Regions from separate parts of the Homo sapiens genome. Here regions 1, 2, 3, 5, 6 and 7 are each linked to region 4. The links come from fine-mapping of genetic effects on gene expression. A gene starts in region 4. Each other region holds a variant in brackets. All regions are shown on one strand. Distances are between the middles of the regions.

What was found. PIP is the estimated chance that this variant, and not a neighbour inherited with it, causes the effect.
Region 1: its variant is fine-mapped to the expression of LGALSL in monocytes (Schmiedel 2018, PIP 0.95).
Region 2: its variant is fine-mapped to the expression of LGALSL in whole blood (TOPMed, PIP above 0.99).
Region 3: its variant is fine-mapped to the expression of LGALSL in whole blood (INTERVAL, PIP 0.99).
Region 5: its variant is fine-mapped to the expression of LGALSL in whole blood (INTERVAL, PIP above 0.99).
Region 6: its variant is fine-mapped to the expression of LGALSL in whole blood (TOPMed, PIP above 0.99).
Region 7: its variant is fine-mapped to the expression of LGALSL in whole blood (TOPMed, PIP above 0.99).

What each region holds. Positions count from the first base shown.
Region 1 is chr2:64,234,927-64,238,993 of GRCh38, forward strand. The region is part of intron 2 of LOC100507006 (a long non-coding RNA gene); the gene reads left to right. Among named protein-coding and RNA genes, the nearest start is that of LINC00309, 31 kb to the left of the region's middle. The variant CA/C (reference allele first, on the strand shown) is at 1,794.
Region 2 is chr2:64,264,753-64,268,819 of GRCh38, forward strand. No RefSeq gene overlaps it. Among named protein-coding and RNA genes, the nearest start is that of LINC00309, 61 kb to the left of the region's middle. The variant C/G (reference allele first, on the strand shown) is at 1,536.
Region 3 is chr2:64,339,948-64,344,014 of GRCh38, forward strand. MIR4433B (microRNA 4433b) reads right to left here and starts at 901; the gene lies at 800-901. MIR4433A (microRNA 4433a) reads left to right here and starts at 812; the gene lies at 812-892. It overlaps LOC105374768 (a long non-coding RNA gene), which reads right to left and starts at 1,762. Exons shown (of 3, transcript NR_189739.1): 1 at 1,588-1,762. The variant A/C (reference allele first, on the strand shown) is at 1,819.
Region 4 is chr2:64,451,769-64,455,835 of GRCh38, forward strand. It overlaps LGALSL (galectin like), which reads left to right and starts at 2,394. Exons shown (of 5, transcript NM_014181.3): 1 at 2,394-2,813; 2 at 3,576-3,647; 3 at 3,821-3,909. The coding sequence starts at 2,778. LGALSL-DT (LGALSL divergent transcript) reads right to left here and starts at 3,110. Exons shown (of 3, transcript XR_002959392.2): 1 at 2,757-3,110. RefSeq lists silencers at 2,151-2,570, 2,581-2,650, 2,741-3,040.
Region 5 is chr2:64,272,299-64,276,365 of GRCh38, forward strand. No RefSeq gene overlaps it. Among named protein-coding and RNA genes, the nearest start is that of MIR4433A, 66 kb to the right of the region's middle. RefSeq lists an enhancer at 1-438. The variant G/T (reference allele first, on the strand shown) is at 1,583.
Region 6 is chr2:64,305,990-64,310,056 of GRCh38, forward strand. No RefSeq gene overlaps it. Among named protein-coding and RNA genes, the nearest start is that of MIR4433A, 33 kb to the right of the region's middle. The variant A/G (reference allele first, on the strand shown) is at 2,377.
Region 7 is chr2:64,281,406-64,285,472 of GRCh38, forward strand. No RefSeq gene overlaps it. Among named protein-coding and RNA genes, the nearest start is that of MIR4433A, 57 kb to the right of the region's middle. The variant G/A (reference allele first, on the strand shown) is at 1,580.

The sequences.
Region 1 (4,067 bases), 220 kb before region 4:
TGCTTTGCTTGCAGTGAAACAGCATGGTTTCCTCTTGGCCTTCAGGAAATCCTGTTATAATTCAACCAGTTTTGAAAATGACCTCTTTCTGCTCTACTGAGCTGGTAATGTTTCACTGGGTTAGAGTAGGCCAAGGTCATGTACAGTTCTATACTATTAGCTTAGAGGAGCATACTTTTAAATTTTGATTTCAAACATGTAACCTGACTTAACAGTGGGTCTTCCCACAGTGGGACCATGATAGTGGCAATAGAACTTTCACGTGTTTGGGGCTCTCAGCCAATGCATCCATGAGCCTGAGATAGAGCATTCCTGTGATTCCCAGGTCTGCTCTTCCTTGGTCCTCTGTGCCAACCCATGAAAAAACTGCATGCTATGACCAAATTCAGGATCAAGTTTATCCTGTCTAGAGCCAGCTCTCCAAAGGTGAAATTTTACCTTATTCCTTTGAATCTATTTTCTTGTATTTTTATTTTGGGATCTTTTAGTAACAAGGCAGCTTCCCGAGATTCTGTTGTGAGCAGTTCTGGAGTCGATGGGTATTTTTACATAGGTGTACATTTGCTTCTATTTGTGTGTGTGTTTGTGACCTACCAGAGGAAAGAGCCTCCATTTGCCTGGAAGCCTGGGATGATTTAATCTCTACTATTTGGGTTGCATTAATTAAATGGGGTGGATGTTTCAAATACTTAGCTATCTTAGAGATACAAAGGGAAGGTCTTTGAAGAATCTGTACCGTAGTGAAAGATACGTAAATAGTGTGTGCTGAGAAGAACGAACAGCCCTGTGGGCCAGGAACAAAACTACTGAAAAGAATTGGTGAAGGATTCATCAGCTTTCTAGGAAAAGGGCAGCATGGGTCTTTATTCTTCACTTTGTCAAGTTTGAGTCATGCCCATTTCATAAAGTATTTGGCCTGTGCTAAGTGTGGTTCAAAATGTGATATCCTTGTTTGATATCACAAGGTGACATGAAGCGGTGGATTAAAGGGAAGAAAACTACCATTTTAGAAAAACAACAGCAATTGAACACCTGAACGTACAAAAAAAAATGAGATTACTATTCATCTCTGGAAACCAAGTTTCATCAGAAATAAGAAAACGGAATACAATTTGAGACAAGTTCTTGGCTGTTGGGCTACTTTCAAGATTCCTTGACTATCAGAGCTCTATAGGGGATCCAAATGTAGCCTTAAGGGTTTTGTCTTGTCTGTTAAATTAATTCACCTGACGGCCGGGCCAGTGGCTCAGGCCTATAATCCCAGCACTTTGGGAGGCCAAGGCGGGCGGATCACCTGAGTCAGGAGTTTGAGACCAGCCTGGCCAACATGGTGAGACCCTGTCTCTACTAAAAATACAAAATTAGTTGGGCGTGGTGGCACGCTTGTAATCCCAGCTACTCGGGAGGCTGAGGCAGGAGAATTGTTTGAATCCGGGAGGTGAAGGTTGCAGTGAGCCGAGATCATGCCTCTACACTCTAGCCTGGGCGACAGAGCAAGACCCTGTCTAAAAAAAAAAAGCATGGTGGCTTATGCCTGTAATCCCAGCACTTTGGGAGGCCAAGGCAGGTGGATCACTGGAGGTCAGGAGTTCTAGACCAACCTGGCCAACATGGTGAGACCCCATCTCCACTAAAAATACAGAAGTTAGCCAGGCATGGTGGTGGGTGCCTGTAATCCCAGCTACTTGGGAGGCTGAGGCAGAAGAATCACTTGAACCTGGGAGGTGGAGGTGGCAGTGAGCCGAGATTGTGGCACTGCACTCCAGCCTGGGTGACAGAGCAAGACTCTGTCT[CA/C]AAAAAAAAAAAAAAAAAAATTAATTTACCTGACAACATGTAGGTATGAAAGATCAAAGCCAGTTGGGAGGGCTATACAGGCCGGGGACCTATTCATGTTTTCTGAGAGTGGGATCACTTTTTTTTTTTTGAGACAGATTCTTGTTCTGTCACCCAGGCTGGAGTGCAATGGCATGATCTTGGCTCACTGCAGCCTCTGCCTCCTGGGTTCAAGCGATTCTCCTGCCTCAGCCTCCCAAGTAGCTGGGACTATAGGCACATGCCACCAAGCCCAGCTAATTTTTTGTATTTTTAGTAGAGACAGGGTTTCACCGTGTTAGCCGGGATGGTCTCGATCTTCTGACCTCGTGATCCGCCCGCCTCAGCCTCCCAAAGTGCTGAGATTACAGGCGTGAGCCACCGTGCCCAGCCTGGGATCACTTTTTAAAAACAGCTTTTCATGGTGATGACTAACATGACAGAAAGTACGCTATCACAAACAATAATCCTAAACCAAGTTGTTGGATGAGGTTCATTAGCTTTACTTTTTTGACTATGATTATCTGAGATGCAGTTGACTTTAAGAATGGCCACTACTGAAATTCATCCTGCACAGCAAGATTTTCTTTAGGTTTCCTTTAGAAACATCATGGCTCCCTACCTTTTATTTCTAGCATTAACTTTGGAGGCGCTTTTACTCCTCTAGGAGTGCAGCCAAGCTGACCTTCTCAACCCTGAATCCTGTTATTTATGGAATCAGTGATTCTATTCATTATTAATTCACAGTAGGTCTGGCTTCACACTAATTTTAGAAGCTCTTTCCTCTTGTTACCAGGCAAAACAACAAATGGCCTGGTTTGCCTTTTAGGAGGTAAGAAACCAAAAGTACTCAGATATGACCTTTTAAGATTTGTGCTAATCTCGAAGGCTTGAGATCTTTCTTGGAAACATAGTGAAGAGGTCCATGATTGTTTTCTAAGATTATCACTCAATTGAACATATATTAAAACTCCCTGGAATCAGAAAAAAATACCATGACAAGTATCTTCAATATTGAGTCAAGAATGCTTTTTAGGGCCAAGGTGCTGCCATTTCCAGATGGCACCTTCAGAATTTCTTTCAATTTAGCATTACTAACATTTTGCTGCTTTGATTGAAGCAATGGTAAAGCAACTTGAAGAAATGGTAAAGCAATTCAATGTAAATAAATACAAATGCTGTTAAATGTTCATTTTTTGAAGTTGCTAGCTTTGTGCTCTTTGATTTAAAGGAAGGTTATGATCTCAAACCTGGATGAAATATCCTGTGTGAAGCCAGTTTTTCCCATACACAATTGCAAATATTAGGCCCTATAATTTTTTTTTTCTCAAGATGGAGTCTTGCTCTGTCACCCAGGCTTGAATGCAGTGGCGCGATCTCGGCTCACTGCAACCTCCGCCTCCTGAGTTCAAGCAATTCTCCTGCCTCAACCTCCCGAGTAGCTGGGATTACAGGCGCCCACCACCAAACCCAGCTAATTTTTGTATTTTTAGTAGAGACAGAGTTTCACCATGTTGGCCAGGCTGGTCTCAAATTCCTGATCTCCTGATCTGCCCACCTCAGCCTCCTAAAGTGTTGGGATTACAGGCATGAGCCACTGCGCCCAGCCTGGTCCCTGTAATTTAACCCCTTTACTGTATTAAAGCAAATAATTAAGGATGTATGCAAAGATTTAGTTACAAGTTGATACTGGCAAAAATGGGAAGTAAACTAAATGTTCAACTTTAGGAGAATAGTTAAACAAATAACGGCACATGCATACATTAAAATTCTTCTAGCTACTTGAAAAGATGTTGTAGAGGAATATTCAATGACATGATAAGATGACAAGATGTACCGACTAAAAGATGCAGTTTACAAAATAATATAGATAACATTAGTTTTTAACCCTTTTTGGGTCACATACCTCTTCGAGAATCTGAATAAAAATGCGCATTTACCTTGGGCTTCCTAGCTCCCCATCTTTACCCCCAGGAAAGTTGTGTGCTGTTACTTGATTCATGTAGATTCTTACTTGAGAATGGAATCAACACCTGAAGAATTAGCTGTACTGTATTATTTAACATTTTATTTATAACCTTTCAGCAATTTTCATAATCAGCATTATCCAGTCAGAGATGTCTTCCGAATCAGGTCCCAGGCTCTGACAGCCATGTTTTTTTTTAAGATAGATGATTTGTAGTACCTCTCCAAATTGTTTCACAATTTGGAATCTTCCGGTCCTTGCCTATTCACTATTGTAATTTTACAGCAGA
Region 2 (4,067 bases), 190 kb before region 4:
TACAGTACTACTCATATTGTAGAAGTTGCTAAACATTAAAGGGAAATACTTTTGAATACAAGTAAATTTCAGGCTGTATTATGCTCTCCCCTTCCTCTGTTTGTTTGAACACTCTTTGACAGTTGAATTACATTGCAGACGGTCTGTGAAGTGAATGGTGGTCTGATTTCCTAGGATCAGTGCATAAAAGAAGCTTTTTCTTTTTTGTCCAGACAGCATTTTATTTCAGGATCAATGGTGGCTGATGCATGGTGCTTATTCTTAGTCGTGACATGTTCTTGAAGTAAAAAGAGAATTATTTGTAAGCCTTTGAAGGCCCATTCAGGTGTTGGGCACGCGCTGCAGAGCTGGGCTGTGGACCCAGCCCATGGAGGGAGTGAGCATGCATGGTGTCTCAGGAGCGGGGTAGATTTGAGCTAAGACCTTACTTTCTCTCACCCAGACCCTCCTGTGGCAGTCAGCGCAACATGGAAGACAATAAGTTTGGAATTAGGAATGAAGCCTGCAGCTGCAGGCCAGGCAAGCTGGAATCATAACTACAGCCCAAGAAAATGAAAACTGACCACTAGGGTGGGGAGAGGAAGGGCAGTGGGCTTGTTGAATTGATGCTTTCCTTTTTCTCTGAGACATGCTGGCTTCTTTCCCCCTTTGGGAATAGGCTCAATGTCTTGGAGACAGTCTAATTACTTTTTATACATTCATAAAGAAGTTTATTTTTGGTAAAGACACTCAAACTAGAATATACTTGATTGGTTTACACTGAAAAAGTAATTTGGGACTCATCACTCAAATTGCATTAAAAATGCTGAAATGCATTCCAGTCATTATCTAGTCTAGCCTACTTCTTACTGTATCAGAGAGATGGAATAACATCCAAATTACTAGTCCTGCATATATTTTATGTTCCTAAATCTGAACTAGTAAGAGAAAAACTCTCCTTGTTAAAGGGAATGTTAACATTCACTAGGAGGTTTGTACATGGACTCCTCCCCTCCATCTGCAGAGTATTGTCGAGGATCTGAATACAGAAAGGACATAACACCCTTGTCATCTGTGCTAGGCATAGCCAGACCTAGAGGAAAGGGCAGTATTGCATCTGCATCAGTAAGGGGGCTACCAGGGAAGCAGAGGGAAGCGGAACATAGGGAAGCAGAACCAGCAGGACACACACACACACACCCCCACCCAAGTCAGTTCTTGCTATTCGTGATAGCAGTGTTCTATAAAGCTGTCACAAACATTGAAATAGCAAATGCTGAACCATTGCTCCTAGGGGATCTACAGGGTTAGGTTCCTATGAACCTCTGGTCACAACATTTTCATCAACTGATCAAGATATTACCTTGTTTTATGTGTGTTTCTGTTTAAAGACACCTTATTTAATATATACTGTTGATGCATTAACATTGAACTCATGGCCAAAACATTACCACCCATGCCTGAATGAAGCTTATCTAACACACGTATTTTCCCTGTGAGGCACATCACAGTCTTCTGGTGCTTAGAAACACCAGACAACACCTCAGCACTACACT[C/G]AAGGGTCATTTTAAACAATGAAATCACCAACAAAAAGCACAAGAATGTGAAAATCATGGCACTAAATGAACTGTGAGAAGGACAGTTGTTTACAGTATGAGAGCTGAAACATGAAAGTGCTGCCTCAATTGACTTCAGCTGAAAAATTTGTGCATTGGGTGACTTAAACTTTTCACTGCTTTGAGCATGTCTGTGATTGATTGCGGAAGCACTGCAAGTATTGGTTTTGGGGTTACAAATGAATTTTAGAAAGTAGGCAAATTTCCAAATACATAATCCATCGATAATGAGGATCAACTCTACATTACAAAAGTTTTTCAAGAATTGGCTTGTGTGATTGTGGGGACTGACAAGTCTGAAATCTATAGGTCAGGCCCGAGGGCTGGAAACTCTCCCACAGGAGCTGGAGCTGCAATTGACAGGTGGATTTCTTCTCCTTGGAGAAACCTCAGTTTTTCTCTGAAAACTTTCAACTGATTACATGAGGCCCATAGAAATGATCAAGAATAATTCCTTTACTCAAAGTCAGCTGATTGTGGATGTTGATCACATCTACAAAATGCCTTCGCAGCAATACCTAGACTAGTGTTTATTGAACAACTGGGTACTATAGTCTAGCTCATTTGACACATAAAACTAACCATCACAGTACCCAATTTAGAGCTCCTGGAAAGCAGCCGCGGAAGAAATCTTCCCTCTATATTTTCCTAGATTACTATGAGAGAGCAGTAGCCCCTCAACCCTGTCTGCTGGCCTGGGTCACAGTGTTTGTTCAGCATACTCTGAGGCTCACTCTGTAGAGGGACCTTACTCAAAGCACTGACCATAGTGTGGGTGATGAGAGATCCTTTTTTTCAAAGCATTAAAAAGGGGTAGAGACTTAAGCCTCTTCCCTGGACTCACCAAATATGACCTTTCTTTTGCCCATTGTTTTGGGCTGTTTTTTGCTGTGAGTCTCTTCCAGTAGCCAGTTGCTCAGCTTCTGCCCTGGAATTAACAAGAGGACTTTGACTGCTCCCCTGATCAGTGGGGGCTGATGTGTCTTCTCAGCAGTGTTATTGGGCAGTAGCAGTCTTATTGCCCAGGCTGTAGAGTACAAGGCTTTCTCCTTCCTCTTGGGACCATGATGTTTAGGAGAAAAAGAAGGAGACACCTTAACCTATACTCTATCCCCTTGATATTCAAAGTGTGGTGTATAAGCCAGCAGCAGCAGCATGACCTAAGAATGTGTTAGAGATGTAGAGCCCCAGACCAACTGAATTAGAATCTGCATTTTCTGTGAGACTCATATTCACACAAAAGTTTGAAAACATACTCTAGGTAGCTATCTGGAGACTTCTGGTCCTTTAGCCCTCATTGTTTAGGTCCTGAGCCCTGACCCATTTTTCCACCTATTTTGAATTGGATATCCCAGAATAACCCTGCTCCCCCTGGCACGGGTGGATGAACACCCCATCCTGCTTCTTGCAACTGGCAGCCCTTGAATATCCCTACCTGCCAGAGTGGCCTGCATTTTTCCTTCCCTTGTTTGGGCATGACATCCTATATCCAGGCCCTCCCCAGGAACACTACTTCTGCCCCATCCCACTCTGTGTTCCTGCCAGCCCTCCACCCCCTAGAATTCCTTTTGGATTCTGCATGCCAGAATATGTAGGGAAGAGTGCCTGGAATTTCCTCCTCAGAACTGACTTAAATGGATTCAAACACTGGTGAGCACAGTTCAGAGAGGAAGTAGGATTAGCTGAGAGATTCAAGGAACAAGGGGTCAGTTTCTGAGTATCCCACTTCTGAGGTGAACATAAGACTCCATTTAAGCTTCCACTGCCTCAATTCTAAGTTGATGGGAAAGCTACCTTTGAACATTTCTGTGAAACTCATTAAACTAGTTTGAAATCTTAAAGGCTCTCCATACATTTGCTTTTGAGGCCAGTTTAACAAGGAATCCATGGCCAGCAAAGAGTTATGCTGCTGACTTTACTAGAACTCTAATGGTCCCTTTTGTTTTTATTAAACGTGGAATCCATTAACCTGTCATTATGGGATATCCCCATGCTATGGAGGCAAATGGTTAATTGAGTGGCACACCTTTAATAGTATAGTCTGTAATTATAAAAGCTATTTTTAAAACCCCACATATGAACATTACCAAAGAAGGAGGAATTCTCACCATGAAAACCAGCTTTCGGCTTGGACAGCAATTACTCGTATTTCCTTTCCCTGGCATCAGGAAGACAGGAGTAGACAATGGATTGGTTCCAAAAATAATCTCAAGCTTTTCCCACTTACAGTATGTCAATTGCCAGGCTTGTCTCCCATGTCTCCAGAAGTGGAAAAACATATACATAGTCACAAACTGCACAATCAACTCCAGCCTGCAATTTGCTGAGGGTCATTTTCTTGACTGGTCTGAATTACCACGTGGTTAATTTGATTGTCATTGCATCCAGCTGGACTAAGTGCAGGTCGATAGATGTGCGAGGTTACTTGAGCAGAGCAAATTAATTATACAAGTGAATTAACTTAAACATGCT
Region 3 (4,067 bases), 110 kb before region 4:
AGTCTCCTGAGAAAAATGTATTGCTGTTGATCTTTCAGCCTTCGTCACTGCTATCCTTCCCCTAAAGGGCTTGCCTTCAGCCTCTCTACCCATCCTGGTTCCCCCAGTGCTTTGGAACCAGGACAGACACACTCTGCTCCTAATAAGCATTTCATAGTCAGCCCCAGCCCAGAGCTCTCCTTATCATTCATTCATTCATCAAATATTTTTTGAGCATTTACTTTCTTCCAGGAGCTGTGCTAAGAGATATAGTAGCAACCAAGGAACATTCCAGTAGGAAACAGACAGGTAAGTAGATGGGTTTAGTATAGTGTGAGAAGTACAATACAAACACACCCAAGGATAGATCCAGATTGAGTCTTGGACAGTCGGAAAGACTTCCAGGGGAAAAAAAATGGCATCTTTTCTTCATTTCCACACTTAGCAATTTTTCTATATTGGTTTGTCATTTATTCATTTAATCACCAATCATTTATTGTGGGCTGGGCACTGTGCAGAGATAGTAATCAGACTTGACTTGAGGACGATAAGAAATCACTGAAGGGATTTTAAGCAGAGAAAGGACATGATCTATTTACACTGGTAGATGTCACTTTGATTGTAGGAAAAGTGGACCGGCCAGGGCAAGGCTTGAGGCAGGAAGCCAGCTAGGAGACCACTGCATGAACCCACATAAAAATGAGGACCTGGGCTAGGGAAGTAGCAGGAAAAGTGGATTTTGACAGATATCTAGGACAGAGCCAACAGGACTTGGACAGCAATGGGATGTGGGGGAGTAAGAGGGAATAGTTTAGGATGATGTTCTTTCCCCCATCCTCCTTACGTCCCACCCCCCACTCCTGTTTCTGGTGAAATATTCAAACAGGAGTGGGGGTGGGACATAAGGAGGATAGGGAACACAGGATGAAGGGCAGGTTACAGGGGTCCACGTGCGAGGGGAAGATAATGTGTTCAGTTTTAGACATGCTGAGCTCATGATTCCAATTCCTTTGGACATTCCAGTGGAGATATCTGGCAGGCTGATTTTTCTCACGAGAGAAATCATGTCTGGAAATACAGATCTGAGAAGCAGCAGCAACATATGGGTGGCCACCAAAGCCGTGGACTCAGTCAGCACCATTAAGCCAGAGTGATGGGTGAGATGGGTGACAAGGGCCCCCCTTGCAGCAGGTGGGTGACAAAAGAAGAATCAGTGTTGCAGCATGGGAAGGACTGCCCAGAGAGAAAGGAAGTGAACCAGGAGAGGATCTAGAAAAAGGACACTGGGCAATGAGAGCTTGGAGCGGGCCTCTGCACCAGGGGAGGGGTGGCTTTGACTGGCAGATACACATGTCTAGTACACGTGGAGGGTATGAAAACTCCAGGGAAAGAGAGGGGCAGCAGGAGCTCCCTCTTTTTGTAAAACAGGCTTTCTCTTAGGCGTAGCCTTCTAACTGATCTGCCCCACTATCCTCAACCCACTCTCCACTTCATAGCCAGATAGGTCTTTTCAAAACACATCTCTGATCACATCACCGCCTCTCCCCCAGCTCTATTAAAAACCTTTGGATATTTCTATGGCTCTTAGCATGCAGACCAAACTCCTACCTGGCCTGGCCTCTACTTCCTTCTCCAGGTGCACCTTCTGCCAGACTCTCTTGCTCTCTCCCCTGCAGCCAGCTGGCTTCCATTCGGCCTCGCAGACTCGTTGCATGGGTGTTACATTGTTGCTGTCAGAGCCATGTCCACCCTTCCCATCCCGTGGTCCCCCGATCTGCTCTGTGTCACTGGGGGCTGTTCCAGGCTCCAGAGCCAACTGCCTTCCAGTAAAGTTCAGCC[A/C]ATGGGGAGTGAGGGAGGGCAAAAGATATTGGAGGTGAAGGAAGGAGAAGCCAGAGTACTTCTCCTGCTTCTCTTTCTCAGGAGTCTCTTCTGTGGCTGCAGTTCCCACTACACAGCCATCTCTGTGTGATCCCTGCTACCCATCTTGGCAGGCCCTCTTTGTTCCAGCTTATCTTGTCTTAGGCTCCAGAAACTGTTTCTTTCCTTGTTCTCCAGCTTCCAGGGTGGTGCTATGGGTTGAATTGTGTCTCCCCTGCAAGTTCATGTGTTGAAGTTCTAACCCCCAGTACTTTAGAGTGTGACCTTATTTAGGGTTGTGGTCTTTATAGAGTAGCCGAATTAAAGTGAGGTCATTAGGGTGGACCCTAATCCAATATGAATGTTGTCCTTATAAAAAGGGGAAGTTTGGACAGAGATAGACACACACAGAGGGAAGACGATGTGAAGAGACATAGGTGAAAATGGTCATCTACAAGTCAAGGAAAGAGGCGTGGAACAGATCCTTCCCTCATAGGCCTCAAAAGGAACTACCCCTTCTGACACCTTGATTTTGGACTTCCAGCCTTCAGAACTCTGAGACAATAACTTTCTGTGTGAAGCCACCCAGTCTGTGGCACTTTGTTACTGCAGCCCTAGCAAACAAATACAGTAGTCCCAGCTTCCTGGAGTTGCTACTCTCAGGGTTCCCCTGGGAGCTCTTTCAACTCCTCTGACTCCCCGTATGAAATTCCCTCTATCAAATCACCTAGAGTGGGTTTTGCTTTCCTGGCTGGGTCCTGACTAATATGCCTGCCATGATCCTTTCTGCCACAGAGGACATAGTGCTTCCTCTGCCTGGTATTTTTCCCCCTCTCATCTTTACCTAATGAACTTTCCCTAGTAAACTCATCTAGGTCATAGGTAAATGTCACTTCCTCAAGAAGGCCTACCCCTGTATAGTCATTACCAGCTCTTATGGCTCCAAGCACCACCACTCATGGTTTTGATTTTATTTCTGTGTGTGATTATTAGTTAATGTTTTCTTCCCAGTCCATCAGGAAAGGTAGTCTTTTTTTTCTTACCACTTTCCCCAGAGCCTAGGATGATGCCTATAGTAAATATTTAATACACAGTCATGTGTGACTTAACAACGGGGATACCTACTAAAGAATGCATTGTTAGGCAGTTTCGTAATGAGAGCATCAGAGTATACTTACACAAACCTAAATGGTGTAGCCTGCTACACACCTAGACTATCTGGTCTAGCCTATGGTTCCTAGGCTACAAACACCTATAGTACGTTACTGTACTGAATAATGTGGGCAATTGTAACATAGTAGTATTTGTGTATCTAAGCACATCTAAACATAGAAAAGATACATAAAAATATGATACTATAATCTTAAGAAATCACCATTGTATATGTGGTCCCTCATTCACTGAAACATTGTTATGTGGCTCCTGACTATATATTTATTGAGTGAACGGAGGAAGGGTAGTATAATTTTGTAGATAATGCTAGTATTTATGTGCCAGTAAAGTTCTAAGCATCTTACAAATATTGCATTTAATCCTTTAATCCTCATAACAATTTATGGGATAAGTAATATTACCTCTATTTTACACATGAGTAAATTCACTTATGATCCCATAGCTAGTAAGGATTTGAACCCAGGGACTCCAGCACCAGAGCCTGAACTCTTAATCACTGTTATTCTGGCCTACGCTGTTCTCCCATGTTTTAGCAAGTCTACAAATTTTGTTTGTGCTAGCTTGCTATTATACTATGCCTTGTACCTCTTATTTGCAATGAATTATGTTTAACTTGACATGATATTAGAAAATTTCCTGGACAAATGTTTTCTATGCCAAATAGCACCCCAATAATATGCACCTTGAGTTTTAGCAAAAATTTGGTGACAAACCTATGAATACACAGTCCCAGGATGGTGAGGTTCCTGGGTATCTCACCATCTTTTGTGGTTCTGTGAAATCTGCCCACCTCTCTATAAATCATCCCCTCATTAAAATCCCTTCAGCTAAACCCTTTGGGAATGCCATCTTCCTTCTGGGACTCTGGCTGATACCCTGCAACTTCCTGGGAGCATCCCCTGGCTTTCTTATGTGTTTATGGCACGTGACATTACCATGTGACTGCAGTAGCCTGGGCTGCCTCTCCTGTGTCCGGCAGCTGTTGGCACCACCTTATGTGTGGAGAGTGCCCTGTGTGCTCAGAACACCCCAGGTACTATGGGGAGATGCCCTGGACC
Region 4 (4,067 bases):
CATGTAAAAGCCAATCCTCAACCACAGTGTAGAAGGGCTATCCATTTCTAGCTACACATCTCCTCAGTCACTGCCCCCAGCCCCAGTACTTGGGGACTTTGCCCTTGCAGTTCCCTGTGCCAGCAAACTCTTCCTCCAGATGTCCACATGACTCACCCCCCTCCTTCAGGGGTCTTCTCAAATGTCACTTTACCAGAGGTGGCTTCCCTGACCATCCTGTATAAATAGCATCACCCTACCTCCTATCTCTCTCTCTACTGGCTTTTTAATTATTTTTATTATTATTGAGACAGGTTCTCACTCTGTCACCCAAGCTGCAGTAGAGTGGTGAGATCACAGCTCACTGCAGCCTTGACCTCCTGGCTTCAAGTGATCCTCCCACCTCAGCCTCCCAAGTAGCTGGGACTACAGGTGCACACCACCACACCCAGCTAATTTTTTTTTTTATTTTTGTAGAGACAGAGTCTCTCTGTGTTGCCCAGGCCTGTCTCAAACTCTTGGCCTCAAGTGATCCTCTTGCCTCAGCCTCCTATATTGCTGGGATTATAGGCATGAGCCACCGCACCTGGCCTTATTACTTTTTCCTAACACTTTTGTCACCCGACATATTTTGTTTATTGATTTCCTTTGCCCACTAGAATGTAAGCTCAGCAAAAAAGTAGCCTGCTGGATCCCCAGTGCCTGGTATACAGCAGGCACTCAGTATTTTGGTATAATAAGTGCTTACTATGTCCCCAATACTGTTTTAAGGAAGGTATTTACTTAATCTTCCCAATAACCTGAGATAGGCATTATTATCATCATTGTCATCTCTGAGTCACAGATGAAGAAACTAAGGCACAGAGAAGTTTAGTAATTTTTCCAAGATCACACAGCTAGTGAATAGTAGAGCCAGGATTTGAACGCGAGACACCGGCTCTTTAACCACCATCACATGTAGTGTCACCCTTATTGTGTCACTCAGTTAATGATAAAGAACTACTGCACTTTAATGCTTCTTCTCTATACCAGACTCTCAGAAATTGATACATACTAAAGTATGCTTTCAAATGTCAATCATTTCCTATAAGTGCCTAACATTTTAAAGTAATAAAGTGTGATTTTGAGCTAAGACTGGTAAACAAAGTGTGCTGCAGCCACAAGCGTACTGCGCTTTAGCCTCTATCTAGTTCAAGAACCACTTCCAGAGGATATGAGTGAGGCTTACAGGCGTGTGCAGGTAATTCTCCCTGCTCAACTGAGATTACCATCATTAGCTCTGGTCCATAAAGGGAAAACTAAGACACAAAAGCCACATTGATGTTCTAGGCCACACAGCCAATTGCAGTGACTAGAAGAAAGAAGCCTCCCCGGGCGGCGAAGGTTGCAGTGAGCTGAGATCGCGCCACTGCACTCCAGCCTGGGCCACAGAGGGAGACTCCGTCTCAATTTAAAAAAAAAAAAAAAAAAAAAAAAAGGAGCCTCTGAGGGGCCCTCTGGGACTGCAGTAGGTCACACATGCTCCCTGCTTATTAGCATAGAACGCCCCGGTGATTCATGCAATGGAATGTTTCAGCCAAGGATGTCACCTAATAGAGGATATGTTGATACAGCTTTATCTGAGAAGTTACATAATCGTCCTAGTGTGGAAATGCCATAAAGGAATTTCTGGCTTGAATAAAAGAGGTGTGTATCCCCTGGGAAGTACTCCACAAAGGGTATGAGGAGATTTTCAGTGAGAAGCTGACTACCCCAGACTGGGCAAGTGACTTGTTAAAAACAGGGCTCAATGGAGGCTCTCTGAGGACAGTGACTGCGCCCACTTTGATTTGGTAAGGCTTTGACTCCTGCTCGAGAGAGTCCAGGGACCCCTAGACCTGCCTGTCCTTCCACAGGGAAGAGCGACCTTTCTGTATCTAGCCTCCTGGGATAGAAAGGTCCCTACCTTGAGTCCTCTCTGCTTCGTTCTTTCAGGTCACACATTTATTTCTGCAAGCCTTCAGACCTTCCATTCTCTTTCTGCCCTAGAGAGCAGAATGAATCCTTCCCCCGATTTTGTTGGAATTCTCTGAAAGAAATCCTGCCAAGTCTCCCACTCTGGAATACCACCCCCAGCACCCAATCTTCCCTCGACCTCGCCTCCCATCGCCCCACCAGCGCCCAGGACGTGGCAGGAGGAAGGAGGCTGGAGGGAGGGGCGCGGGTGGCACGAGCACCTGTCACCTGACCGGCTCGGGCCCTCACTTCTCCAGCCCCGGCCCTGCCCACCCTCTGGCCGGTGAGAGCCGACAGGGCCCCCGCCCTCCCGGACCCGGACAGGCCCGTCCCTCCCGCCCCGGCCTCCGCCACCGTCCAATGGCCGAGGGGCAGGGCCCGCTGAGCAAGCCGCGGCAGCCCCGCCGGGTCCCCGCCCTGTTCCCGGTTCCCGAGCCGGGCCCCGGAGGCCTTTAAATGCTGCCCAGGGCCGACGCGGCACGGCCCTCGCCACTTTTCTTGGTCGGGCAGCGGCAGCGGCAGCGGCAGCAAGCAGCCCCGTCGGCCCGGGTCCGGGGCCGTTCTGGGCCGCGGCAAGCACCTTCGCCCTCCCAGCTCGCGCTGCCTCCCTCCCCTCCCCTCCTCCCAGGCTCTGCCTGCCAGGTCGGCGCCGGGCCCCGGGCGCGCGCGCGCGCGCCCCCTCGTGTGTGCGCGCGCCCGCCGCCAGCTCGGACCCGCGCCCCCGCCCCCGCCCCGCGCAGGACAGCCCCGGGATCCCCGCCCGCGCGCCGCGTCCCACGTACCCCGCCGCGCCGGGCAAGAAGATGGCGGGATCAGTGGCCGACAGCGATGCCGTGGTGGTGAGTGTGGCAGGGCGCGCGCGAGGCGCCCCTCCCCGCCGTCCCGCACTCCGCCGCCGCCTGCTCCAGCAGTGCTGGGGTGCTGAGCAGCCGCAGGCCCGGCCGGCGCCCGGCGCGTGGGAAGGCGCCCGGTACCTGTTAGCAGCCGCTGGCTGCGCGCGGCCGGTGTTAGGGGCTGGAGAGGCTCCCGGGCTGCGGGGCTCTGGGCTGGGGAGGGAGTTTGGGGAGGATGGCGGGTAGGGACGCCCGACAGCCCCCTCTGTGCCGTGCAACCGCCAGCCAGGTGTGCGCGTGGGTGAGTGTGTCCGGGGCGCGCGCCCCGCCACCGCCCCCGACGTACCGGGGATTCCCCCTTGGAAATGGGTCGGCGCCCGGGGCTCCCGAGAGAAGTTGAGCACGGCCGCTGCACTTCAGTCACGTCCCGAAGGACAGGCCTGGCCCACCGCGCTTCCAGAAGCGTTTACGGTTGGAGAGGGGCCTGCCCTCCTCCGGCGTGGGGCTCTGGCTCTTCGGTGGACCTCGACCTTGATTTTGATCTGGATCTGAAGGGTCTGCGGATCTTCAGAGGCTTAACTACCGGGTGGAAAGGATGGGTTTTGTTCGGGGGTGATGAGATTATCTAAGAGACGGTGAAGAGGCATCATCTGCAGACACTGTGTGCATGTGGAAGGCTGCTGGATTCCACCACATCTGTGTGGGTTCTTCCTCCAGCCCCCCAAAAAAGAGCCCATGGAAAGCCAATCTGTGTACTTCTATTTTTAGAAACTAGATGATGGCCATTTAAACAACTCTTTGAGCTCTCCAGTTCAAGCGGACGTGTACTTCCCACGACTGGTAAATGATTTTGCTCTGTGTCTCTGCCTGTACCTTCCTCCTTTCTCATTGCTTTTTAAAATTTTATTCATTTGTTTATTGCATTTTCCAGTGGGTCAGGCCTTCAGGGTCTGAGGTCTTGGCTTTTCCCTAACAGGCTGTAAAATTCATTTTTCTTCTCCCACCCTTTTCAGATAGTTCCATTTTGTGGGCACATTAAAGGTGGCATGAGACCAGGCAAGAAGGTGTTAGTGATGGGCATCGTAGACCTCAACCCAGAGAGGTAAGGCAGAGTCTTTGTCAGGACAGAACTATCAGGCTGTGGCTGAGCCCTGCCCACTTCTGTTGTGGTTTAGCACTCCTCTTCCTCTCCTTGTGGACAGTGTTGCTAGTTGCCAGTGCCAAGAAAGTACCATGTTCCCATGAAACGAATATGTATGA
Region 5 (4,067 bases), 180 kb before region 4:
ATCAGTCTGTAAACTGACTAAGGTCAGCTTGTCTTACTCCATGGCTCCTTCCTATTCATTAATAGGTATTCAATTAATGCCTGCTAGCTGAGGAAAGATCCCTCTGCTGAACTGGGGGGAAGCAGGGTTAGGAAACTTGTAGGTAGCCATTAAAACCCTGTTTGGAATGTGGCCTACACCTTGGGAACTTTTGCGTGTATCTGTTGACTTGTTTTTTTGTTGTTGTTTTTGGAGACAGAGTCTCGCTCTGTCGCCCAGGCTGGAGTGCAGTGGCGCGATCTTGGCTCACTGCAACCTCTACCTCCCAGGTGCAAGCAATTCTCCTGCCTCAGCTTCCTGAGTAGCTGGGACTACAGGCACATGCCACCACGCCCGGCTAATGTTTTTGTATTTTTAGTAGAGACGGGGTTTCACTGTGTTGCCCAGGCTGGTTTCAAACTTCTGAGCTCAGGCAATCCGCCCACCTCGGCCTCCCAAGGTGCTAGGATTACAGACGTGAGCCACCGAGCCCGGCCGACTTGTTTTTAAATCAATTACCAAATTCCCACTGCTATCTAAAATGACACAGCCACTGCTATCTATTGGGTCCTAGCCCAAAAGACTGTACCCAAGAGACTCTGCCACTCACACAGGAGAATGTAATCTTTAACTAATTAGGTTAGGATGCACAAAAAAGTGTGGGAGGCTGGACGCTAATATAGCTTAGACTTGAGGAAATGCCAGGGTGATGGGTAACTTGCTCCATGTGTTACTTGCAGGCTTCAGACCTGCCAGATGTGCATCTCATAGGCATTTCAAATCACACCATCACCTGCCCCTGCAAAGCTGTTTTGCTCTCTTACCCTCTCTCCTGCCCTGCTGTCTCTCTCTCTCTCTCTCTCTCTCTCTCACACACACACACCCCTTAGTGTTGTGCTTTCTTTTGTTAACTCTTTTAATCAGACTTTGATTTTCTAGATCTGTATGTTTCAATTAAATCCTAGTCTCTTTTGGACATTGAACTTGCAGAAGTTTTTTCCTGTATCTTCAGTTCTTGGTTCTTCTGATAAGTGCCTAAGGAGAAACAAATAAACAAACATGAACAAAGAGATAAACAGCAAAAACCACTCCCGGAGGCCTTCACATGGAACCCATTCATTATGTAACAACAAAAGGCCCCAAACAACTGCAGACCAGCATGACATATCGATGACTTATTCTTTTTAATATTAATGACAGTCTGAAGGAAGTTGTGGTGACAAGTCAGGGATTAATACTGCTATCTCTTTATGAATATCTGATCTATTAACACCACTGGGCTTAATGGGATTCATGAGTCTCAGTCACTGTCATGTCATTGCCCATATTGTGCAATCAGAGATCAGTTTTGCAATGGCTGATAAAAACAAAGGCCCAGAACCAAGGAGTTCCAGCAGAGAGGAAGGAAATGAAGCTTCCTGCTGGCTGAAGCTGCTCACCCAAAAGAAAGGGAATTAGATAAAGTGAAAGGTATTTCTCAGAGATGGGCCCAAAGCTGCTTCTGTTTCCTTGTGGCCTCAGGCTGGCTCTAGCTAGTAGGACACCATGACCCAGAGTAACTAAA[G/T]GGAATTATTGGCATCCTCCCACGAGCTCCTACCAGGCCAGTGCCAGAAACACTCATCTACTCCCTTATGGAAGATCACTGAGTCATGAGATCTGTGGTTTGTCTGATTCTCCACTTCCCGAAGCCAGCCAAGGCTAACCGACCTGGGATTCTGAGAGACTGTCCAGGTGAGCTCGGGTGCTTCAGTAGCAACTGGCCTTCTGGGTGTGCCCCAGAGCAATTCTGAGTCCAGAGATCGTTTCTGGCACCACCCTCAGCTCTCTCAGGGTTCTGGGAACCCAGTGATCAGAGGCTGGCTGGCTGTGAGATGTTCTTTCTCTTACCCTGTGGTGGGCTCCACATTGCAGTCACTTCATGCCTGCTGCTAAAAACCTAGGCCAGGCTTATTACCTTTCATCCAGACCAGAACTGAAAGCAGTTTCCATCTCCTGGGCCAATTCCAACTAATTGGTAGTGGCTGCCCGAGCACTGTGTAGAGAAAGATTTTGAGTTCAGCAGCAGAGTGTGGTTGTCCATTGGTGACGATTGCCAGAGGCACAGGTGGGTCACTGCAACTTGCATTCTGTGTGTTTACTAATTCTGATCTGGACCATTACATCAGCCTGCTAAGTGGTGCACTTACCTCTATTTCCTTCCAGAAAAAAAGATTAATCTTCCAGAAGCATTCTTTGATAAGAGCCTTATCAAAAAAAATTTCAACTCCACTCCACTTTAGCAACTCAGACCTGTTCTACATTTGTGATCAATCCTTCTCTCTCTCTCTAGCATATATATACACACATATGTAATTATATATACACATACAATTCTATATAATTATATATGTATGTATATGTATACATGTGTGTGTCTTCTGTGACTCTTGCCAGCAACCTCAACCCACTTTCCCCTTCCTTTTGCTATGTCAGTCTTGCAAACCTTTCTCTGTGAATCAGTTTTCTCTGTGAATCATTTTCCCTCTTTCTTCCTACTCAAGGACTCCTGAAGGAGGCTAGAGGAATACACACTCTTGTGGTTTGGGTTCTACACAACCTGGGGCCTCTGACCTCGGCTGGGTTCTTAGCACAGTGACCCCTCACAGGCCCCTGGTCAGCATCCTTTCCTCCTGTTCTGTTTCTCTCTCATCTTAAACCCTCACTGCTGTGTTGCTGTCCCCTCCCCAACCATGACCACCTTTCTCTTGGCAGACCACCAAGGCTCCTGTCTTAGTCATAGTCTATATTTTATCATAGAATTATAGAATTCTGTAGTCATGCAGGTGCATGGCTACACCATGCCTGGCTAATTTTATGTAGTTTTAGTAGAGATGGGGTTTTGCCATGTTGGCAAATTCTATAATTCTATAATAAATTGTAGAATTTATTCTATAATAATAATTTATATTTATTAATTAAATATTTATAATAATTATAATTCTATAATAAATTCTATAATTTATTATAGAATTATGGTGTTCTATAATAAAACACCATAGACTGGGTAGCTTAAAAACAGACATTTATTTCTCACAGTTCTGGAAGCTGGGAAGTTCAAGATCAAGGTGCCAGCAGATTTGATTCCTAGTGAGGACCCATTCCTGCTTGCAGATGGCCTTCTTCTCACTGTGTCCTCACCTGGCAGAGCAAGAGAGGGCTCTGGTTTCTTCTTCTTATAAGGGCACCAATCTCCTTATGAGGGCTCCACCCTGATGACCTCCCAAAGGCTCCACCTTGCAATGTCTCACACTGTGGATTAATTAAGGCTTCAGCATAAGAATTTTGGTAGTTGGGCTGGTGTTCACAAACATTCAATCTATAGCAGCTTCTATTTCACAAACTCCCTGAATTCTCATCCTCAGAGCTGCAGGCTCTTCTGCAGCCACCTCACCTTCCAAGCCCTCTCCTGTATTTTCAAAGAAAAGCTGAATTCTCACCAGCCCAGAGCCCTCACTGGTGCTCTAGCTCCAGTCTCTCATGAGCCTTTGCTGTCTCCATTATTCCTTTTTTCTTCTTCTCTGCATTTCTGGACCCTCCCTTGCAGTATGGGAACATGGTCAGTAATCTTCCTTTAAAATAAAATGCTCTCTTCTCCTTCACAGCTGAGCTCCTGCAGTTGATTCCCTCATGACCCCGTCCACTTACCTGCCTTCTCTGTCCATTTTGCAACAGGCAATATCACTTTTCCTAGCTTTCTTAACACCAGGCCTTCTGGATTCTCCTCTTTGCCCTTTGATTAGTCCTCTTCTACCTCTATCCTTTATTTTAAAATTTTTTTTGAGATGGAGTCTTGCTCTGTTGCCCAGGCTGGAGTTCAATGATGCAATCTCAACTCACTGCAGCCTCCATCTCCCAGGTTCAAGTGTTCCTCCTGCCTCAGCCTCCTGAGTAGCTGTGGCTACAGGCGCATGGCTACACCATGCCTGGCTAATTTTATGTAGTTTCAGTAGAGATGGGGTTTTGCCATGTTGGCCAGGCTGGTCTCAAACTCCTGACCTCAGATGATCCGC
Region 6 (4,067 bases), 150 kb before region 4:
AACAGACAAGAAACAACACAAATATGTTATTTAGAGACATAGCAATAAATCCCAAATAGCTAAAAAGAACTGAAAGTGACTTCTGTGGGGAAGGGAACAAAAGATTGCCTTCTAGGACTATTTGTCTCTTTTATTGATGAACATATATAAGAATAAAAGTGACCAACTGACTAGTAATAAAAAAAACTAAATAGAAAGTCTTTAAAAAGCCATTGGAGTGAAAAGCTCAAGAGATGGATTAAAATAAGAATAGACATAAGTCCCTATGGAGTTTTTTTGGTTCAATAAGTAAAGTAGGGAAAATTAGAATGAGATCATGTGGAGCAAGGATCTTGAGCAGAAAACCGAGGCCTGTTGTGCAGAGTAGGGAAATTTCTAAACCAGTTACCACTGCGCAGCTGCCTTCTACAGTCTGGCTAAAGTACCTAGAGGGAGGGAGGGAGGGAGAGCAACCAGTAGTGCCACCTTCTCTCCACCTTTGGAGAGGGACTTGATTTCCAGCACCACCTCTCTGCCCTGCCCACACCAACAATAACCATTAACATTAATGTTCCAAGCATTTTACATGTATTAATGTATTAGCATTTTATCCTCACAATCATAGTATAGGTTAAGTATTATTACTCTCATAATTAAAACTAAGGTCCACAGAATTAAGAAAGAAATTTTCTTAAGGGCACTATGCTGGGAAGCGGAAGATTTGGGATTTGAACCCAGGTGGTCTGTCTTCGGAGTTCACATTCTCAACTATTGTGCTACAATGCATCTTGCTACACACACACACACACACGCACATCCCTAAAGTCTTTGGTAAAATAGCAACGAGTTTATCTTTGAAAACAAGAATTCCTTCCATATCACAAATGAGAGTAAGCTGAAAGCAGAAGGAACAGAGGAATGCATAATTATCCATTGATTTCATGTATTCCCTACCTCATTTTCAAAAAAGGTATGAATCAGTTTCCAAAAATGTCATATATAGTAAGTAAAAAAAATGAGCAAAAATTTTAAAAATAGACTCAAAGTAAGTGGATAAATAAATGTGCCAAATGAAAAATTCAAGAAGGTTGCTGTATCTGAAAATAAAACCTGTATATGAGCTTCCTGGCAGCCAAGATAAAGAAAGAAATGTAAGTAATTGCACAACTCTCATTATAAAATAGGAGATAGTTGATTGAACGTTTATGTGATGTGCAAGTTAAGTGCATGATAGAGGAGGAATAGGAGGCAGAATATCATGTAATTAGTTATATATTGAGTTGCTGTGATTTTGGAGAAAGTTACCACTTTTCTTTCAATTATTACGAAAGTAAATTTGGAAGAGCCTCACATGGCCCTTATGTTTGTCTTGAAGATATGTGGACTGTTTCTAGGTTCACAACACCAAAATCACAATGCAGATTGCTGTCATGTCATTAGAGCCATCCTTACAATGAATCAAGCTAATGCCAGGTGAATAAGGAAACCAACCAGCAGAGGTCCAGGTGGGACATAAACCCAGACCTGGAAAAATTGAATGTAAATGTGTTTCCCATGCTCATGGGGCTTGTTGGCCAACTCCACTTCCTCTGCTGTGCAGAGGAATTGATCGTGCAGATTTTGTAAAGTGTGGTATTCTTAAGTCGAACTGGGATGGAGGCCAGCGGTATACTGGCAGCCAAACGTGCCAGACATCTGAGTTGAGAATAGAGTCCTTAAGGTGCTCCTGGGTTCTTGGGTGCTCTGGGAAGACAGCACCCACAGCCACAGTGATATTTAACAGAATAGAAGATAGCCGAGCAATGAGCAGCTAAAGCATTAATATTTGTGTTTTTCCTCTCTCATTGACCTGATAGTCCAAGTCTCCCAGACTATCAAAAAGACTTGGATATTAACAGGAATTCAAATAATCATTTGACATTACCTAGGTGGTACCTGATGGGGCTGAGCCACTTTTAGCACAAGTCATCACATTCTCCCCAGTGGCCCACCCTGTCTCTCTCTGCCTCAGCCAAACTTTGTGAAGGGGTTGTCGACACTTGCTGACCCTACTTCTTTATCTCTCATTTAATATTCCAGTGAAATTGCTCTTGGTAGAGTAGCTAGTGACCTTCTTGTTGCCAAGTGTGCACATCTCAGTCCTTGTCTTACTTGGTCTCTTTGCAGCAGAGGATTTACCTTTTCTTTGCAAACACTTGTTTCTCCTGGCTGCCACAACTCCACAATCTCATCATTTTTCTTCTCAGGCTCTTTCCCTGGGGCCTTGGGTTTTCATTGCCCTCCTCCTGCCTGGGAGTCTGGTGCCTGTGAGCTCTCCAAGGGGAGCACTAGTCTGTTTGCCCTCCAGAGTTTCTCCTAGTACCTAGCAAAATGCCGGACATGTAGGAGGTGATCAAT[A/G]AACAATTTTGGAAGAATGAACAAATGTGAGTTTTATTCATATTTATTTTGGATTTATTATATGTCCTGACAACTACAAAAACAGGATTGGAGGTGGTTTACAGTGTTAGAATATATCTAAAAACATAACAAAAGCTTTTTTTTTTTGAGACAGAGTCTCGCACTGTCGCCAGGCTAGAGTGCAGTGGCGCCATCTCCGCTCACTGCAAGCTCTGACCTCCTGGGTTCAAGCAATTCTTCTGCCTCAGTCTCCTGAGTAGCTGGGATTACAGGCACAAGCCACCACACCCAGCTAATTTTTTTTTTTTTTTCTATTTTTAGTAGAGACGGAGTTTCACCACATTGGCCAGGCTGGTCTCCAACTCCTGATCTCGTCACCTGCCCGCCTCAGCCTCCCAAAGTGCTGGGATTACAGGCATGAGCCACTGCGCCTGGCCAACAAAAGCTTTAAAAAAGAGAAAAATAACAGAAACCAAATAAAAGTGAAATGAGATAAACACACCAGATTGCTGGGATGAATTAGTTGCTGCAATTGAACACTAAATTTAGTGCTGAGCTTCCTGGTAGGCAAAGCAAAATAAGCAATACATCAAGTTGTATAGTTCTCACTGGCAAATAAAAGGAAGCATAAATGTTTGCTTATGGATAGAAATATTTTCTAGCACTAAACATCAGTAGTTGTTTTATCATGTTTACCTTTAACAGAAGGTAACAAATGATAGTCAAAGATACTGCTCAATATCTTACTTTTTTTTTTTTTGGAGACAGAGTCTCACTCTGTCACCCAGGCTGGAGTGCAGTGGCATGATCTTGGCTCACTGCAACCTCCACCTCCTGGGTTCAAGCAGTTATCCTGCCTCAGCCTCCCGAGTAGCTGGGACTACAGGCACATGCCACCATGCCTGGCTAATTTTTTGTATTTTAGTAGAGACGGGGTTTCACTGTGTTGCCCAGGCTGGTCTTGAACTCCTGAGCTCAGGCAATCCACCCACCTCGGCCTCCCAAAGTGCTGGGATTACAGGCATGAGCTACCCCGCCTGGCCTCTTTATATTACCTTTTATATAATAAGTAGTATATTATAGGTACTATATACAAGATAATATACTGGGCAGTGTCTTAGACTATCATTTTCCAAAATATATGAATGCTTCTTCAAACTGTTCCTTTAGACACCTGGATGATACTAACAGAAGGGGTAAGTATTCCAAGACACATCATAGTTGTGTCATTAGGGAAATAGATTGGGATTAGGTGAAATAAACTTCTGGGTACCAGGCACCCAGAAGATACATGCATAAAATGATCCCAAACATCATGGCTGTCTTGCTCTTGCTGGAAAGCCTAAGTAAATTTGAGTGGAGCCTGAGGAAGACTACCTACACCTGTACTGATTTTCACAGGGAAGCACACACAGACATCCTCCTTCTGTTTTCCTCCAGAGATTTAACACTATGGATTCATAAAAGCCCCAACTTGGAAGCGGGGACAATCTGTATTCTAACAATCAGAGCCCCTGGGAACATGTGATGTTAAAGTCCCAAAGGGGAACGGGCACGGTGGCTCACGCCTGTAATCCCAGCAATTTGGGAGGCCCAGGTGGGTGGATCACGAGGTCAAGAGATCGAGACCATCCTGGTCAACATGGTGAAACCCCGTCTCTACTAATAATACAAAAATTAGCTGGGCATGG
Region 7 (4,067 bases), 170 kb before region 4:
GATGTGTGTAGGTTACATGCAAATACCGCACCATTATATATAAGAGACTTCAGCGTCTTGGGACTTTGGTATCCAAGGGGGGATCCTGGAACCAACTGCCTATGGATACTGAGGGACCACTATACTTTAATCTAACAAGCCCTAGAAGCAAAAATGGGGATTGAAGAAGTAGCTAATAAGAGAAAAGGCAGTAGTTACTGGGATTTATTTACAATCACAATCGACTCTTTTCAAGGTCCACTTTGCCTTGAATGCTTTAAGTTCTAAGGGGCAATATTAAGTTTATTTGGGTTACAAGAACATTATGTAACCAGGTGACAAGGATCAGGCAATTCTGGTTTCAGGTTTTGCCCAGTCTCCCCTACCCTGCTTGCCGGATAAGTGAAATGTACAGATAAGACTGGTCTTATATTCTTATGTCAAGAACACAAGAAAATATGTAGGAATGAATCAGTCATAAGTATTCCGTGAGTTCTTAAGGAAATAGAAGTTCTGATCAGATGATTAGTAGCTTTATTACTTCTCCTCCAAGGAAATGAGTTGAACTAATTTTTAAATTAGTGGATAATAGGCTGGCCTCCTAGGAATGTCAAGGCTGTGGCTACCATAAGCAGGTGGGCTAAGCTGCTACCCAGCTTTCCCATGACCCCCTGCCACCACGGAGGGAAGGCACTATGAGATCACACACAACGCAGAATAAGCCTGGGATTCAGCCACCAGCAAAGCAAATGCCAACCTCTCCCTCTCCCCTGCAAGAAATAAATTTTAGAAAGAGTTTGATATCTCAAACAAAGCATCGAAATAGTCATCATTGGAGAAAACTAACTTACAAGAGTTTCTTAAAGTTATGATTGAGTAATTATTTTATTTTAAATTATGTGGGGCTTTAGGGCCCCTAAAGGACTTAATCTGGCTTTACATATACATAAAATTCTCTGGAGAACTCTAACTAATAGAGTGGGAGAGGTGGGCATTGAACAAATGGGGTGGGATAATACAGTATTTCTGAATGTTTACTGATGTCCTAGTTTCCTGTTATTTCTCCCCTTTGCCCATCCCTCAGGCCAAGCTGCTTGGCACTCGGTGCCCATTGCTTTAAGGTTGATGTAACAGAAAGAAATGAATCTTCCTAGCTCTGGTCCCTAAAAGGCTAAAAGCCCCCTGGGAACTGTATAGGACTCCAGTCATAGCCAAAATATTTGGGGGATGTGGGGATTGAGGAGAGCAGGGTCTCCCCTGGACTAGAAAATATCCCCCAGGCCTGTGGAAGGAGAGGTAGAGGGGACAGGAGGAGACCAGAGATGTCATCTGTCCTGAGGTCCAGTGGGGAGTGGGGTTGGGAAATAGCTGTGCAGTGGGTCTGAACAAACTGTTCTTACACAGCCAGGCAGAGTCCTGGCTCCCAAGTGAGACATGAAAGCCGCAAGGAGATTGCCCACCATTTGTGAAGGGGCACAGACACCAGGAACTCATCTGAGTGGTGATCTATGTGCCTCAATGACCTACAATTATGAGAATAAAAGATGTCTCATTGGACACCCTTGTGGACAGGTGACGGAAGACTGACAGGCCTTCACCA[G/A]CCTAATGACCTGGCACAACTTAACTGTCGAGGAACGCCAGAGAAGGAAAGAAACTCCAAGTTGGCTGAGATACGTTTCTACCACTCCATAGAATGGGAACTCAATGCTTTAGAGAAAAATATAGGCCTTAGTCACCTAAATTGTGACAAGTAGCCTGCAAGAGAGGGAAGGCTTTGAGGAACTGAAAGATGGCCATAAGAGTTTAATCCAGTGAGCAAGGGGAAGGCAGCCCAGGTGAGGTTGGAAGGACAGGCAGGGGCCAGATCACACAGGACTCTGTAGTGCGGGCCAGGGGATTTGTATTTAAGTGACATGGGAAGCTGTTTCAGAATTTTTAAGCAGTTCCTGTTCTTTAAAGTTCACATTAATTCTTGCATGGGGTTGGGGGGTGTCCTGAGCAAAGGTTAGGAGTGCAGTTGAAGGGCTATTGCAGTCTTCCAGTTGAGAGCAGATGGTGGCTGAAACCAGGCTGGGGGCAGTGGAGCAAGTGGATGGGTTCTTGATATATTTTAGTGGTAGAAGGAACAGGTTTTGCCATTGGGTTGGATGTGCGGAGTGAGGGAAAGGAAGAGTTGGTAAGAACTCTCAGGTTTCTATTTGAACAACTGGTGGGAAAATGAAGCCATTTACACAGCAGAGGAAGTCTGGGGAGAAAACAAGTGCCTGTGAGGAAATCCAGACTTTTTGAGATGCCTGAGTGATGCCGGAATGGAAATGTTCGGAAGGTAGGAAGGGTTGGTAGATAAGTAATCAACAGCATAGAGAAGAGGTCTGGGTTGAAGGTAGGGATATGTGTGTCATCTGTGTGAGCCTTTACCACTTATTGTTTTGTTTCATTTGCTTTCGCTTTTGCTTCTCCTCTGACCCTGCACCTGTGCAACTTCCCCTCCTCCGTCAGGTCTCAGCTCCAATGTTGCTTCCTTCGGGAGGCCGCCCTACTCCTACCCCAGTGTGAATTAGGCCGAGTTAGGCTCTCCCCCAGTCTTTCTGTTTAAATTTTTCCTTCCAAGCACTTATCATGGTTTGAGATGAAAGATTTATGTTTGCCTGTCCTTTAGCGATGAATCCCAGTCCACACTGAAATGTGTTAGAAAAAAATGACTTCATTTTTCTGTAATGAAATCATTTAGGCCCTAAATCTGAGGAAGAGAAGGCAGGAAGAAGAGCTGAGTGCAGATAAATTGCAACATTTATGGATCAGATAGAAAAAGAGACACTGCCGCAAGCAGCTAAGAAGGAGCTAGAAAGGAAACAGGGTGTCCGGGATGCCATGGGAGAGGGAGATGGGAGCGTTTCAGGACAGAGCACGTGTCGCTGTGTCTGATTCCGTTGAGGAGTCAAGCGTGTAAAGACTGGAGTGTCTACTGGATTTACAATACGGGGACACAGGTCCTTGGTTCCAGCAGTTTGTGTGGAGCAGTGCAGATAGAAGTCAAGTTGCAGCGAGTAAGGGAATTAATGGAAGGCAGGAATAAGAGAGAATATGTGAAGATGATTGTTCCAAGAAGTTTTACTGTTAGGAGAGAGAAACTAGGGCAGTAGCTAGGAGGGTATATGAGGTTAAAGGAGGATATCTCAGAGAGGCATGATCCTGACATATATCTATGTGTAGATGGGAACAATGGATTGAAGGGGTGGGATGGGGAGAAATAACAACAGAAGGAATCAGAGATGAACACAGAGAGAAGAGGAAGGGAGAGAGCAGGTGTGCGGGGTGTTGACTTGCAAAATGGAGCAAAGAAGGCTTTAAAGCCTACCCCAAGAGCAGCCCCCAGCCATGCCTAGATTAAGATGAGCCAGAGGGCTCCTTTGCAGCCCAAAGGGACCAGGGGGCAGAGAGGAAATGCCAGCTGCAGCTCTAGGAGGGGAAGCCATGGGTCTGGCTCAGTGGTAGTCAGTGGGTCGGCAGCCAGTCCCTGGCCCCTGGCCAGGCACATATTGGGAGCAGAGTGGCAAGTCTTCTGACAGCATTGTTGGAGAGGAAGGACCATGTGGGTGAGTGCTGAACAGCGGGAGGGCAGCCAGGACCAACTTCAGAGCCGAGCAAACTCAGTGGGAGCCTGGAGGAAGGGTTGGCAGGTGCCACCCCTGCTTCCTCTGTTTCTCTCTACTACATCATCTGCAACCAAAGGGATGGGGGTGCAGTTTAACTCATTTTTTGTACTACCTTTCAGGCCTGCAGCTCCGAGTGACTGCCCCTGCTGCCATCTGGAGGAATCCCCCTCCCCTTGGTGGCCCTTGTACAGGAGCAGATGGGCACAGTTGCTGGCTGCTTGGGAAGGAGAGCCAGGGAGACCTGGGAGCCAAGGGGCGTCTTCAACCCTCTGGCTTCGCACTGACTTCACCCCCGTAGTAGATAGCCTCAGGCAAGGGAGCAGGGGACAGCCCTGGCTGCCCTGTGAGGGGTCGGGGCTGGCTGAGCCATAGAGCCACAGACAGGAGCAGCCTTAGGTTCCTGGAACTGCAAAAGCCCTGGAAAGGGTGTCT